2 separate regions of the Homo sapiens genome follow, and region 2 is linked to region 1. A link means that fine-mapping ties the variant in region 1 to the expression of a gene that starts in the linked region. Tissue or cell type: whole blood. Region 1 holds a variant in brackets; the other region holds the start of a gene. All regions are shown on one strand. Distances are between the middles of the regions.

Region 1 (8,198 bases):
TCCTGGCATTGAGAAGCCGGAAACATGAGGATGGATTCGAAAGGGCAGGTGAGACCCTCTCCTCTCTCTGGGTTTCTGCAGAAGCAGTTGGGCTTACAAGTGGAAGCCTGGCCAAGTCTGTACAATCTTCCTTCCATAGGTGAAGTGAAACCACAGGGAGACAGACAAGAAACAGAGATCAGAACTAATGTTTGTTGTCTATCTGTGTAAGCCACTAATCATGTATTATTTTAGTTAATCCTCATTTTGTAGGAGAAAAACTTGAGACTCAGCTAGCTGACTCCCATTGAGTAAATGGCAATGCCGAGGCTGAATTTCAGGTATGCCGGTCTCCGAAGTCCCTCTACGTTACCCTGTGCCATGCCTCACTGCTTCTCTGTAAAATGATGCACTTTCAAGTCTGTGTGTTTTTAATGTGTTTATACATCAGCTTTACAAATCATTTTTAAACTATTACGTCTGAGGAAAAAAAGGATTAAGTCTGCAAAGGAAAAAAATATTTTACAAATCATTTAGCTTGAGATAACAAAGCCATTTTACCTTGTACCCCCAGTCTGACTCAAAGTAAGACTGTGAATTCTTTTTTTAATTGGCAAAAGAATTATATATATTTATGGTGTAAAATATGATGTTTTAATATATGTATACATTGTGAAATGACTAAATAAAGCTAATTAACATATCCATTACTTCACATACTTATCATTTTTGTGGTGAGAACACTTAAAATCTACTTTCTTAGCAATTTTCAAGAATATATTAATACCTTGTTATTAACTAGTCATCATGTTGTACAATAGAGCTCTTGAAATTATTCCTCCCATCTAACTAAAAGTTTGTATCTTTTGACCAACATCTCCCCAGTCCTCACTCCCTACCAGCCCCAGGTAACCACAATTCTACTCTCTGTTTCTGAGGTTGACTTTTTAACATTCCACATATAAGTGAGATCATGTGGTATTTGTCTTTCTGTGTCTGGTATATTTCATTTAACATCACATCCTCCAGGTTCATCCATGTTGTTGCAAATAACAGAATTTCCTGGTTTTTTTCTAAGGCTAAATAGTGTTCCATTGTATATATATACCACATTTTCTTTACGCATTTGTCCATTGATGGACACTTAAGTTGATTCTCTATCTTGGCTACTGTGAATAATGCTGCAAAGATTGTGACAGTGCAGAGGTCTCTTTGACATACTGATTTCGTATCTTTGGATATATCATATGGTAGTTCTAATTTTAATTTTTTGAGGAACCTCTATAATATTTAAGAAATGACAATACCAATTTACATTCCCACCAACAGTGTGCATGTATTCCCTTTTCTCCACAACCTCACAACACTTATCTTTTGTCTTTTTGCTAATAGGTGTGAGGCAATATCTCGTTGTGGTTTTAATTTGCATTTCCCTGATGATTCGTGATGTTGAGCATTTTTTTCATATACCTGTTGGCCATTTTTTGTGTTCTTTTAAGAAATGTCTATTCAAGTCCTTTTGCCTATTTTTAAATTCAGTTGTTTTCTTGCTATTGAACTGTTTTGAGGTTTTGAATCTCATAAATACATAACTATTCACCTCTTAAAAAACATCTATTTCATAATCCAGGACTCTCAGTGTGTTTCAAATTTTTCTCTTCTGTGCCTTATTGCTATAGAGGATAGTACTAATTCTCTCTGTTAGGAATTCTCTCTCTCTCTCCTTCCCTTTCTCTCTCTCTCTGTGTGTGTGTGTGTGTGTGTGTGTGTGTGTGTGTGTGTGTGTCTTTCTCTCTCATATCTCTCATTCTTTCCCTTTCTTCTCTAAGCTATTTAGAGTTAGTCCAATTTTTTTCAGGCATTTAAAATAGCAAAATAGCTCAGATTAATCAATGCCATGGAACAGCTGAAGTTATTATCCAGTCCACTGATGTGTCGTGGTTCTTCTTGATTACTAAGTTCTTTTGAACATACACACAGAGGAGCATTATCATGGATAGCTTTGCATATCATTTTCTCTGTCTTTCCCTTAGATTTCTGGTTATTTTACTCTTTGTTTAAATCCCCATATTGAAGGTGACTGTGAGAAGGGGGAGGAGCAGCAAATCTCGTCTGGTTTTTGTTATAGCTTTTCTAGTGGAATAGTAGATTCACTTTAGGGCTCAGCTGGAGAAGGGATAGGGATCATGGAAGGCGATCATATCTTATGATATGGAGGGAGGCACAATACGGAATTAAAACCTCCACTATAAAATTAGGATGAGGTTATTTTTGGTATTTTCATTATTTATTATGTCTTCTGTGGAGTCCTAATTAGGGAAAAGGAGTCAGGCTGGCAGGACCAAGGGAAAGCAAAAAAAGAAAGCAGATACCTTTCTTCGTGGTCCAGGACATATAGCCCTCCTGCACAAATAACTCGCAATCTTCCTGTACCCAACTATTACCAGACACCCTGAAGTTAGTTCACTGCAACCTTGGCATTATCAGCACTGCACAAAGCTCTTTTCAGCATACAGCATAAACTCTATTCTATAATATAAACTCTCCAGCCAAGCCTGTTTCTTTGCAGTCAGCTTCTCTCATGCTGATACTGCCAGTTGCCTCTCTGGCAAAATATTTTCCTACTTTCTCTAGTAAATCTGCCTTTCTGTACCTACAATTAATTCTCTTGGTAAATTCTTTTACCCCTGCACCATCGGCTCAGATAGTTGTCTCTCCCCCATAACATCTCCCTTTAATGCAGACCAATAAGAAGGACCTTCCAGGACAGTTTGTGCCTTACACTTATTTTGTAGATCACAGGGATGTCTCATCACAGGGGTCTGGCATGCCAAGTCTGGATACATTCATAATACTTGGCCTTGGTTAGGCATCTTCAGGGGCTGCAGGTACTTCAGAGATCCTCACTTTCAGAGGGATATGGAGAAACTGAAGTGGATATGGTAGCAAAGAGGTGAATGGAGCAAAGTGAAGGCAGAAAAAACTGGGAGGGAAGCAATGAGAGAATTTAGAACACTTCTACAATTTAACTTAAATCTGTTGCAAGGCAAGGCACCATTAAAGGCAAACTACTCACTGTCCATCTTGCTGAAGAAAAGGGAAATGGGAATGAACTTAAAATAGAAAAGAAGGGAAATGGACAGGCCTGTAGAAGCACTTCTGAAGTGGGTTTGTGCAACATTGGAATGAGTTGCTACATTGCAACAGACTTGTCAAGCAGAGGCCTCCAGGAACTCTCACTAAGGCTTAGTTGCCCTTCATTAAAAGTCATTTACATCTGTCTTGCAAATGCCTCCCCAAACATGGGTCCACATGCTTTTGTCTCCACAACTTCATTAGGAAATACATGGCAAAACTTTATTGCTTGTTGTTTCCCGATTTTATTCCTAGCAGATATGTCTTAGTGAAAATCACAGAGTTCTGAGTTCTCAAATTTTAAAATCTTTAAAAATACCGTAATTCCAGGGCTTTCTGGGTTATATGTAAAATCAGATGGAGAAACAG[CT/C]TTTTTTTTTTTTTTTCTGGCCATTTAAGGATAGAGTAAGGGGCTGACCTTATGTTTCTAATGATGGGGCTGGTGCTAGGTCAGAGAGGTCTGGCGGACAAGGGCTCTGAGTTTTTATTTTACTTTATTTTATTTTATTTTATTTTATTTTATTTTATTTTATTTTATTTTATTTTTTGAGACAGAGTCTTGTTCCGTCACCCAGGCTGGAGTGCAGTGGTGCGATCTCAGCTCACTGCAACCTCTGCCTCCTAGGTTCAAGCAATTCTCTGTTTCAGCCTCCCCAGAAGCTTGGATTACAGGCACCCACCACCATCCCCAGCTAATTTTTTGTATTTTTAGTAGAGACGGGGTTTCACCATCTTGGCCAGGCTGGTCTTGAACTCCTGACCTCGTGATCCGCCTGCCTTGGCCTCCCAAAGTGCTGGGATTACAGGCATGAGCCACCACGCCTGGCCAAAGCGCTCTGATCTTACAGGGACTTTTGCTGTGGGCTGTTCTTTTTTGATTTCTCTCTTTTTGCTCCTGGTGAAGGGTCTCAGTGTAGTTTCATCTCTTTCTAGCATTCCTGATGCAAAACACCTACCCAACCAGATGCAATTACTTGGTTCTCTCCTTGCACAAATAGGCAGCTGAATCTTACAAATGACACTGCAACTTGTGCATTCACCCCTTATCTATCTGGTTCTGGGTAACCCTGGTCTCACTAATAAGGAACTCTGGAAGATCCTGGTTGAGCTTGTATTTTAGCAGGCCTACTTCCAGGGCTCATTCCTCATTGATTCCTAAAGCTGGTCATCTTATCTGTATTTTTGAATGAATAAACGTCCTTTCTTTGCTTTTATTAGTCTGATTTCTAAATTTTATTAGTTTTCCCATTTAATGAAAACATACACATTCTCTTATTTTTAGTTAACAAAGAGAAATTGATTTACCACTTTAGGGCAAACTATGTGCTCTCTGGGCTAGAATCAGGAGGGTGGATGGTTTTGCCTTCTTCCTATAGACTGCCTGTTGATTTAATCTTACTTGACCAGGGAAATTTTCAGAGCGGGAGGAGGGAAGACAAGTCTTGTAAATCCTAAGTGCTGGCTCTAGTTCTCTGCCTTGAGTAGCAAAGAAAATCTCCATTCAATTTTCAAATAAGCCCTAATTTAAATCTTTTATTTTATATATTCAATTTCAAAATGATTACGTATTGGCCATTATGGAATTTGGTACCTCCAATCAGTCCACTCATTGTCAAATTCAGGGACAGGAATCGCTGTTGTTTATCTTCCTTAATAAAGATGAAAGGGAACCTGCTTCTCTTCACTGAGTCTCTCTTTTATACCACAATAATCACATATCCACAAACAATTCAATTACCAAATGAACATTTTTTATGGCTACTCTCTGCCTCTTAAGGCATTCCTCAAAGTTTAGGTATAATTTCAAGTTTGTACCTAAATGGAAGACTTTCTAGACTTAATTCTTGATCTCACTTAGATTGGCCTTTTTTTTGGTTGTTGTTACAAAAATGTCTTTTTCCATGAACAAGATTCTTTGAATCTGTCAGTCATTAGCAGATATTTTCTCTTGTACCTATTTTTAAAAATTATTTGTGCATATTTTCCTATTTTATTATCTTATTACTGTTGGGATCCACCAGTACTTTACTGAAGCTCTATTAGAGGCTACTGGTGGTGGATGGCTGCTCAACTCTCTCTCAATCACTCTCCATTGGAGACACTTTTGAGGAAACAAACAATTCAGCAAGATAAAAGAATAATTTTCAGACCAAATAAATTTGTGGGAACTTTGTGACTTCAAAACAGAAATTTTTAACCCTTCATGGGTTCCAGCAGCCTTAGGGAAGCTGATAAATTGTGGACTCACCAAGAAAAATGCTCTATTGCTCACAACTTTTCCTACAACATTTCAGAGATGCGTGGACACTCTGAAACATATCTGTTGATTCCCTGGGGATCCATGAACACCACATTAAATTTTTCTACTATAAAGTTTATTCACCCAGAAAAAATGATGTTTTTCTGCATCGTGAAATGATGCATTTAATTTAATCGAAAAAGTAAGAGATTTATGTATGCATTAGATAAACCAGGTTTTAAGTGGTGTAAGGTTTGAAATTATGAGAGGCCCATTTTATTTAAAGCAGACTACAAGAAGATAGTCAAGCCTCACATAGGCTGAAGCTTTCTAACAGAAGACCCTACATGATTTAAACAAGATTGATGAGTTCATTTACAATGTAAGTGCACTAACCCCATTCCTAAAACAGATTCCATATAATAAACCATAAAATATGTATTATATTTTATTTCCTGTGTTTACAGCATGCTAAGAGAACAACAGAAACATTGTTGCTGTTGAATGTATTCAATACTGTCCTGCCCCTCTTAGGTAAATATGACAAGAATCAGAGCATTACATTATAATAAGACATTTTCCCACCAGTCTAGTCTACAATGGCATACTTTGTACATTGTGCTGCTGTGGTCATGGAATGCAGATTTCTGTCCCTTAATTCACCCGCACTGTACTTTGAGAATGCAAAATATGTGTATCACCAGCATTCTTTTCTTCCAGGACCTGCCAGACATTATTATGACTGAGTATATTTTAATTATAACCAAAACTCTATTGTTTTCTTTGTTTGCAATTTTATTTCCACACATATAATAATATCACTTAAAATAATTGTATGGGACCTCGAGGGGGATACAGTAAACAATATTACTCTCCCATATGGTTCTGAATCAACTGAGAAATAAGACAATGAGTCTGCAGATAGAGGTCAAAATATCACCTTTATTAATAACAAAGTAGACATGATCTTACAGATAATGCTTTTAATGTTTCACTATTAAAGATGATGTTTGCTATGCGGTTTTGGTTTATAATCACTTTAATAGCTTAAGGAAGTTCTTTTCTATTCCTGGTCTGCTGAGATTTTTTTCAAAAAATTACAAACAGACATGAATTTTCAATAAAATAGATGGCATTCCTGCATCTCTTAAGATGATTATGTGATTTTTCATTTTCTGTTCCTGTGGTAATTTACATTAATTCATTTTTTAATGTTAAATCAACTTCAAGGCTGGCACAGTGGCTCATGCCTGTAATCCCAGCACTTTGGGAGGCTGAGGTGGAAGGATCACTTGAGGACAGGAATTCGAGACCAGCCTGTGCAATACAGCGAGACCCCATCTCTAAAAAAAATTTTTTTATATTAGCCAGGCATGGTGATTCATGCCTGTAGTCCTAGCTACTCAGGAGACTGAGGCAGAAGGACCACTTGAGCCCAGGAGGTTGAGGCTGATTGCACCATTGCACTCCAGCCTGGGTGACAAAGAGAGACCCTGTCTCTAAAAAAATTAAATTAAATTAAAAAATAAAAATAAAAAATCAACTTTGAATTACTGGGATAAACTTTACTTTGGTCATGATATAAGGTATAATCTTTTAAATATATTGTAATATACAATTTGCTAAAATTTTGCTTAGGAGTTTTGCAACTATGTCCAAGAGTGAAATTATCTTTTTTGCCGGGGGCAAATTTTAGTTTCAAAGTTATATTTACATCACTAAAAAGGTTGAGGTACTTCCTTTTGTTCTAGTATAGTCAAAGTTAGCATTTTTTTCCTTAATTGTTTGATAGTATCTGCCTTAAAATCATATGTCTGGCTTTATAGAAATATTTTTAAACTATTCATTTAATCTCATGCTTATATGTGTGTTTATGTTTTTCTATTTCTTCTTCAACTTGGAAAATTATATTTTTCTAATAACTTTTCATTTATCTACATTATCAGATTTAATGGCATAAAATTTTCCATAGTATTTTCTTAAAAATATTTAAAACAGCCGGGCGCGGTGGCTCACGCCTGTAATCCCAGCACTTTGGGAGGCGAGGCGGGCAGATCACGAGGTCAGGGAATCGAGACCATCCTGGCTAACACAGTAAAACCCCGTCTCTACTAAAAATACAAAAAAAATAGCCGGTTGTGGTGGCAGGCGCCTGTAGTCACAGCTGCTCGGGAGGCTGAGGCAGGAGAATGGCGTGAACCCGGGAAGCGGACTTTGCAGTGAGCCGAGATCGCGCCACAGCACTCTAGCCTGGGCGACAGAGTGAAACTCCGTCTCAAAAAAAAAAAAAAAAATTAAAACATATATTAGTTTTCTATTGCAGTGTAACGTTACCACAAATTTAGTGGCTTATAGTAAAATTTATCATATGATTTTTTTGCTTTATCTTATCTTACAATATCTTAAAATTTATCTTACAATTTTTCTTTACTATTACAAGTGAAAATTATCTCACCATTTCCATGGGTTGGGAGTCTGGGTATGAACTAGCTGAGTCTTCTGCTCAGTCTCACTAGGTGGAAATCAAGGAGTCATCTGGGGCTGCCATTCTCATCTGAGGCATTGGTCTTCTTCCAAGCTCACTGGTTGCTGGCAGAATCATTTTTTTGCAGTCGTATGACTTACTAGCTGTCATCTGGGGATTGGTCTCAGCTCCTAGAGTTCCTGGCCACACGGCCCCCACAGGCAGTTCACAGCATGGATGTTTGTTTTCTTCCAGGCCAGCAGGAGCATATCACTGTGACTTACAACCCTTCTCTAGTCTGCTACAATGGAATCTTAAACAAGAAAATTTTATATTTTGACTTGCATCATTGAGAAAAACACTGCCAACCTGATCGTGGTT
Region 2 (8,176 bases), 60 kb before region 1:
TGTCTTCTACTTTTTCACCCATGTAAGGCCAGCCACAGAATCTCACAAAAGGTAGGTATTTAACAAATATTGGTTGGTCGACTGACTAAACAGTATAGAAGTGATTGTTATGTGTGAAAAGAGAGGAAGAAGGCTATGGAGCAAATATATCTTAATAATGAAAAGTTATCTGAAACATTTTCAAATGTGTTCAGAAGAGGAAAAAAAGGAAATATTTGGCAGGGCGTGGTGGCTCATGCCTGTAATCCCAGCACTTTGGGAGGCCGAGATGGGTGGATCACAAGGTCAGGAGATCCAGACCATCTTGGCTAACACAGTGAAACCCCGTCTCTACAAAAAATACAAAAAAATTAGCTGGACGTGGTGGTGGGCGCCTGTAGTCCCAACTACTTGGGAGGCTGGGGCAGGAGAATGGCGTGAACCTGGGAGGCAGAGCTTGCAGTGAGCCGAGATCGGGCCACCGCACTCCAGCCTGGGCAACAGAGTGAGACTCTATCTCAAAAAAAAAAAAAAAAAAAAGGAAATATTTGAGGTAGTATTCTAAAATAGGTAAGGAAAGCAAAAGTATAACTACCCTGGAGTCATTTATATAAAACTAGGAAAAAATTAAAATTCAGAATAATAAAATGTACTTTCAGTTTTAGGAAAATTTGCAGATTTTAAAATGAGTTAAAGGTGGGGCGTGGTGGCTCACACCTGTAATCCCAGCACTTTGGAAGGCTGAGGTGGGTGGATCACCTGAGGTCAGGAGTTCGAGACCAGCCTTACCAACATGGTGAAAGCCCATCTGTACTAAAAATACAAAAAAAATTAGCTGGGCATGGTGGCGCACGCCTGTAATTCCAGCTACTCGGGAGGCTGAGGCAGGAAAATAGCTTGAACCCAGGAGGCAGAGGTTGCAGTGAGCTGAGGCTGCACTACTGTACTCCAATCTTGGCAACAGAGTGAGACTCCATCTCAAAAAAATAAATAAAATGAGTGAAAATTTTTAATAATTGGCTATTCATGGCAACTGAGAAATAGATTTGGTGAAATATATGTTGAAACCACAATAGGACAGAGTTCTAGGATGGAAGAAGAAAATAATGCAATATACTTCAATTCAACTTAAAAGGCTTGGCTGTATAAGAGACAAGAGTTAGGGACCATTTAAAATTACAGCCAATAAGGTAGAACACTTCTATGAAACAGTACATATCAAAAACAATAGGGAAAATATAATACACAGTATCAGCTCTCTAGGTGCAACTGCTTAGAAATCTGTGTTCTTATTATAAGCTCTTTGGGAATAACGATACTGATTTTTTCAATAGTACCTGAACACATGGTAGGTTCTTAACATCTGTTGAACCAATGTAAAGTTTATTACTTTAGATCCTAAGAAATTCAAGACTTGAAATAAATAAGCACATTACCCATATGAAATTGTTTTGGTCATTTAATAATATATAATGTTTTGGCGGGGCGCGATGGCTCACGCCTGTAATCCCAGCACTTTGGGAGGCCGAGATGGGCGGATCACTTGAGGTCAGCAGTTCGAGACTAGCCTGGCCAACATGGTGAAACCCCGTCTCTACTGAAAATACAAAAAAATTAGCCAGGCATGGTGGCATGCACCACCCCTGGTAGTCCCAGCCACTTGGGAGGCTGAGGCAGGAGAATCGCTTGAACCTGGGAGGTGGCGGTTGCAGTGAGCTGAGATCGCGCCACTGCACTCCAGCCTAGATGACAGAGTGAGACTCCATCTCAAAAAAAAAAAAAATATATATATATATATGTATATATAGTCTTTTGCTTTATTTTTTTTTTTTTGAGGCGGAGTCTCACTCTGTCATCTAGGCTGGAGTGCAGTGGTGCGATCTCAGCTCACTGCAACCTCAGCCTCCCAGGCTCAAGCAATTCACGTTCCTCAGCCTCCTGAGTAGCTGGGATTTACAGGTGTGCACCATCACGCCCAGCTAATTTTTGTATGTTTAGTAGAGACAGGGTTTCACCATGTTGGCCAAACTGGTCTCAAACTCCTGACCTCAGGTCATCCACCTGCTTTGGCCTCCCAGAGTGCTGGGATTACAGACATGAGCCACCATGCCCGGCCTATTTTTGCTTTTTGTGATTGTGTATCCCTTTATATATTATATACTATAAATTCTGATAGTTTCTATTTTGTGAATCAGTAGCCATTTATAGTAGATGTAAATTCCATTAAAAGAATGCAAGTAAAAATATTCATATGTATCGATAATTCAAATTAGGTATTTTTCTCCCGTTATCATGCACGGATAAGCTGACACACTTGTTTATATGTCTCTATGACATTTTCTAGATAGTTTAGATTTGGCATGTGTTTTAATCTCTCCAGTAGCCACTAAACTGCTCTGAGACAAGTATCTGTATCTTATAATTTTTTTGTTTCAAGGAAAAAAAAAGACAAGTGCATTTGAGTTGGTAATTCCAAGAATGGCAGCAGAAGACAGAGCATCTAAAGCAGGAGGCTTGGACCAAAGTGGTTCTGTTGCCTGTAATCCCAGCACTTTGGGAGGCCAAGGCAGGAGGAACTCTTGAACCTGGAAGTTCAAGACCAGCCTGAGCAACATGGCGAGACGACCCCAAAACCCAATCGTCTCTACAAAAAAATTCAAAAATTAAAATAAATAAATAAAGTCGTTTTGTTAACCATTTCTGGGCCATGATAATCGGATGAAACTAAATCCTGAACTAATTTCCCGGGCGCTCTTGGGCTCTGGGCTAAGAACTCCTGAGAGTATGGTCAGTGGTCTGCTGCTGCCTGGAAGCTCCCGGTAAAGGAATGAAACTTCAGGGCAGACAGCATTCACTTCAGGAATGGTCAAGGAAAGCTAAATTCGATCTCACTAGACAGCAGCCCGTGTAAGGTTTGATCCCCTTGGAAGGCCCTTTCCTCTGCTAGAGCTGAAAGCCCTGTCTCCCTCGTTTTCTTTTGCTACGGGATCCAGAGAAAACACCAAAGGGCACTTACTGAGAAGCTGAAAAAAAAAAAAAAAAAAAGCAAACTGGAAAAGAGAAGACACAACAGCTCTGATGCGAGGGAGGCCTCGGCCCCGCCCCCTCCCGCCCCGGGAGAACCTTGGCCGAGCCTGCAGCGCCCGTAATCCCCACCGCACCTGCTGCGGGAGGGCCCGCGGCAGCTGTCTCGCTGAGGCTAGGGGGCGGGGGGCAAGGGCACGAAACGCAAGGACGTGCGGTGTCACTTTCTGCACGGGCTCTAAACAGATCGCAGCAATCCCGGTAGGTCCGGTACTGAAAGAGAATCACGCAATTTGCGCTGGGGGGCCTCAGACGCGGACCAACCCCCTCTTCGATCTGCCTTCTAAGGCCCGGAAATAAGTCTCAGCCTCGAGAACTAGAGCACTTCGACCAGGGAGTAGAGGAAGCGTTATTGGGCGTGGTACCCTGGGTTAGGAAACCTGGCTGTAGACCCACTCCAAGGACCGCACTCACCGAATTGCTGGGCTGAGGTGGGGGTTGAAAGCCGCTGTCAAGGCGTGACCCGGAAGCAGAAGCTGTCGGGGGCAGGCCCTCTGTTTACCGGACTAGAAGACCAACTAAGATGGGCGCCTGCGCACTGATGAGTGTTCGTCAGCGGGGCGCGCCTGCGCAGACTTGTGCAGCAGCTTTCGCCCTCCAGAGGCCTAGTTAGGGGGTTACTTTCTCCTTTTACTCAGAGGCTTTGCGCGCAGGCTCAGTGCAGCGTTCTCGGCCACAGCCGCAGGGTTCGGGTCTTGGTCCTGCAGCGGGGATAAAAAAGCTCAGGAACCCTGAGTGTTGGGCCGATTCTATATGGTTGCACCTGCGTGGACCAGGCCAGCAGGGGTCCATCCACAATGGTTCAGTTGCTTAGGAGACTAAACTCTTAGTAGGAAGTGTCTTTGACAAAAATACTTACAGCATTATTCATAATGGTGGAACGAATCTATGCTCCTTAGAACCCTCCTGTACATGTCCACCCTCCTTCAAGTAAACCATATCAAAGACAAACTCAACCACCCAAGAGGTGTAGTATTCTAAATGTAGAGGAATAAATGACCTTTATAACTCTTATTAGGGTTAATGAAACTTCCCGCACAAAAACATGATGACACCTCTGAGTGACAGACTTTCTGTGCAAAGCATAAACATTTTGAAGTCAGCAGCACATGGTGGTGGTGCATGGAAGGAGTGAAGCAGCAGCCCATTTAGGCAGACTGCAAGAGTTGTGGTCTGCCCGGTAGCCTGTTTAACCAGAGTGCCCCACACCTACTCCCCAGAGCTTGTTCTAAGCAACCAAATCTAACCAATTAGAGATTTAAAGCAGGCCCAGACAGATCATGTACATCAGTAAGAGGATGGTAAACTGAAAGTTCATGACCTGGTCTGAGGAGTGGGCCTCCTTTGAGCTCCAGACTCAAAGGAATTTTGCCAGGTAGGAATATGCCCTCCACTTCCTGCCACTGCACCATGGTGAGATCGTCCATTTTTCAAAAGAAGCTGAAATACAGATTTTTTTTAAAAAGTGAATTTTTCCAAGTTGCAAATGTTGGCAATGTTTTTATTATTATTATTATTATTATTATTATTATCATCATCATTATTTATTTTTGAGATGTAGTTTCGCTCTTCTCACCCAGGCTGGAGTGCAATGGCGTGATCTCGGCTGGCTGCAACCTCAGCCTTCCGGGTTCAAGTGATTCTCCTGCCTCAGCCTCCTGAGTAACTGAGACTACAGTCACCTGCCACCACACCTGGCTAATTTTTTTTTTGTATTTTTATTAGAGATGGGGTTTCACCATGTTGGCCAGGCTGGTCTCAAACTCCTGACCTCAGGTGATCCACCCTCCTCGGCCTCCCAAAGTGCTGGGATTACAGGCATGAGTCACCACACTGGACCACATCTCTCAAATTTCTTGGTTGGGAAATGCTGAAGTATATAAATTCTGGGAAACCATCAGCATCTTACAAATGTAAGAATGAGCGGAGTCTCCCAGGGAGTGATAAAATAGGCTCTCAATACAGGTTATTTTACTTATTTATTGAAAAACTGAGTACACTTTTATTTTACTTGGCCTGCAACTCAGTATATGCAGAAAACTACTCTATGTCACACTCATGATCAATATCTTCTTATTTCCATTTGGCATGTCATTGAAAACCTAGCCCATCACTTAGCTAAAAATCACATAAGAGACCCCTAGAGAAATCAAACTAACTTTTTTTCCCCCCAAACAATAGATCTCATCTTTATTAGTCAAATCAGTACCTGCTGATAGGGCAGTGGAGCAAGCCTGACAGTGATATTCATTAACAAAGAAGACAAAACTTATGCTTTCAAGTACAAAGATAAACTTTGAATGGCAGAGAGCCTAATCTGACTATCATCAGCCACCAAGAACACAGAAGAGCAAATAACTCAAGAAGAGAGAAGCCAAAGTGCTATAAAAATTATTCTTTTCTGTGAAATTCAGTTCCACAGCCTGTATGAGCAAGGGTCCAAAACACTGGAGAGCCAATAAAGCTGCTGGGAGGGCCCATTCATAATGGGAGATGCACTGGCTGTGCCTCCCTTGCTGTGTCCTTCCATGAGCGTCCTCCACTCTTCACTGACTTCATTTAGACTTGGTCCTCTGGTCTCACCACAGCTACCTGGGAGACTTTGAGTTGTAATCTTACAGTTTCAAGAGTCTATTTTGACTGAACCCAGGAGTAACATGCCAATCCAAAATAGAAACATTCTCATGGTACAATGGTGCAAAGGTCATTCTGTAGGTTGCATATATATAACATATATATATACACACAATATATATATTACATATGTACTATATATTACAGATATACTATATATATTACATATATATACACAATATATATATTTCTATGGAAGACAAAGCTTCCTTTTTTTTTTTTTTTTGAGATGAAGTCTCACTCTGTCACCCAGGCTGGAGTGCAGTGGCACGATCTCAGCTCACTGCAACCTCCACCCACCTCCCGGGTTCAAGCAATTCTCCTGCCTTGGCCTCCTGAGTAGCTGGGGTTACAGGCGGGCACCATCACACCTGGCTAATTTTTGTATTTTTAGTAGAGACAGGGTATCACCATGATGGCCAGGCTGGTGTCGAACTCCTGACCTCAGGTGTTCCACCCACTTCGGTCTCCAAAAGTGTTGGGATTACAGGCGTGAGCCACCGCGCCTGGCTGCTTCCTTCCTCTTTAACAAGAGAATATTGCACCCAGCATCACTGCTTTGGCTAGCTCTTTTTTCCTGTGTGCCCTCATGTGTGCAGCAATTGAACTGGCTAACAATTTCTGCATTCTTCCTGGTCTGGCCAAAATAATCTGGAAACTCACCATCTGGCCCAATCAAAGACATTGTTATTGTATGATTCACTAACATGGTCTTCATCTTCATCCTTGGGGCTAGAGCTGTAATATACTCTGTATGCTCTGGCCACGTGATTGATCTCTTCTTTCGTGCCAATCAGGCCAACCAGTTTGGGAGAAAATTCTTTCACATAATTTGCAATGGCCTTTTTTATGTCCCTCTCTGGGTCAATGGTGATGAAAAGTTAAATTTGGCAGAGTTGGAACACTATCTCACCCACAACTTGAATTATTTTTTTCTAGTTCTTCTGGACAGATATCAGTAATGACTGAAACCAGAATAAATCAACAGCCACTGACCCAGGTAGTCTTTGTCAGTTTCAGGCTCTCCAAATGTGTTGTGAGGGAAAATGGTCCCCCAGTAAAGGCTTGTTGATGCTTCACTGCTGTTCCTTCTCTAGCTTCTCTGTCTTTTCTATTTTGAATACTTCACTCCAGGCAGTAAACCTCCTCAGATAGCAAATGTGAATGCTAAAGACTTCCAAGAAATAGGCCTGGGCTTCAAGGGGCATGTGCAGTCTCTGCAGTCCTTCTGCTCAGGCCCTGACCACCTCAAGGGTGGTTGGTGGTATCACTGCCTGAGGGGCCAGCTTCCCAGGCAGCTATCAGCAAACCCCCAGTCCTGCCACACTTCCTCTTGCATGCAGAATTGCCTTGGCAACACTCTCACAGTCTACTTGGCTGGGCCCCAAAGCTCATGTCAGCCAGGCAAGAGACACCAAAGTTGGCCCATACTGATTACTTTGAAGTGCCTCAGAGAATTCAGTGCGCAACAAAAGTTGGTTTCGGATACATTCAATCATCCTTTCATCAAACATTTACTGAGCACCTACTTTATTCCAGGCTTTGTGCTCAACTCTCCAGGGAAGACAGAAATGAAGACAGACAGTCTCTTATTATCAAGGGTTGGGAGACAGATATGAACATCCTCAACTGCAATTAATGATGATTATTTCAACAACATTGTTATGTCCAAAGTCAGTGTTGACAAACAGTTCTACCTCATGGTGAGATCAAGAGAGTGAAGGAAGGAAGGGTCTGTGAAGAGACTTCTTGGGGAGAAATTTGTATGTGCTGAGTCCCTACTCTCCTCCTACCCAGAGGGAAAGGAAGTACTGATGTTGCCTAAAGAGGGGCTTCTGTGGGACCAGAGAACTTGAAGATTGTTCCCCATAGTTGTAAAACAAAAACTGCACCAGTGCTTACTTATAAATTAAAGAGGGCTGTAGCCACAAAGTAGAGGTGGCTACATTGGTATCTGTCTGGACACCCAGATTCAGGAGGGATGACGAATGTATAAATGTTTTCCTGGACCAGATGTGGGCCACATGGAAGACAGCCAACGTGGGGTTGCCTTCGGTCTATCCAAATGGGCTGTCTAGAGGTATAGGGGGACCCGGTGGCTAGAAGCCAGAAATGAACACAGGGATGCTACAATCCACAGTTTGTCACAGTCAACCACTTGCATTGGTTTTGGCCAAAGGAACTCAAGTAAGAGATCTCTGATGATGGGAATCTGCAAAGAACCTTTTAAAGCAAGCTTTAAGAAAAAGAGTCAGCTTTAACCATGTGCAAGACCCAGGTAGTACAGACCTACCCTACCAAGAAAGAAAAACCTGCCCTATCTCCTTAGCTTTCCTACCTCCTCCCACTTTTACACAAGCAGGTTCAATAGCAGTTATCTAGTGGGGGAGGAAGAAAGTTGAGGAGAAAGCTGCAGGCAGCCACCAGCCATATGCCTTACATGGAGGAGGAGGAAAAGCAGTCTTAGATTAGTACCTTA

What was found. PIP is the estimated chance that this variant, and not a neighbour inherited with it, causes the effect.
Region 2: it holds the start of ASB8, and the variant in region 1 is fine-mapped to the expression of ASB8 in whole blood (INTERVAL, PIP above 0.99).

The regions. Positions count from the first base shown.
Region 1 is chr12:48,213,854-48,222,051 of GRCh38, forward strand. It overlaps LOC102725258 (a long non-coding RNA gene), which reads left to right. Exons shown (of 3, transcript XR_001749122.3): 2 at 8,073-8,198. Among named protein-coding and RNA genes, the nearest start is that of OR10AD1, 15 kb to the left of the region's middle. RefSeq lists a silencer at 20-220. The variant CT/C (reference allele first, on the strand shown) is at 3,484.
Region 2 is chr12:48,153,982-48,162,157 of GRCh38, forward strand. ASB8 (ankyrin repeat and SOCS box containing 8) reads right to left here and starts at 3,534. Exons shown (of 4, transcript NM_024095.5): 1 at 3,478-3,534. It also overlaps the pseudogene LOC100421855. RefSeq lists enhancers at 3,318-3,840, 3,345-3,394, 3,415-3,464, 3,495-3,714.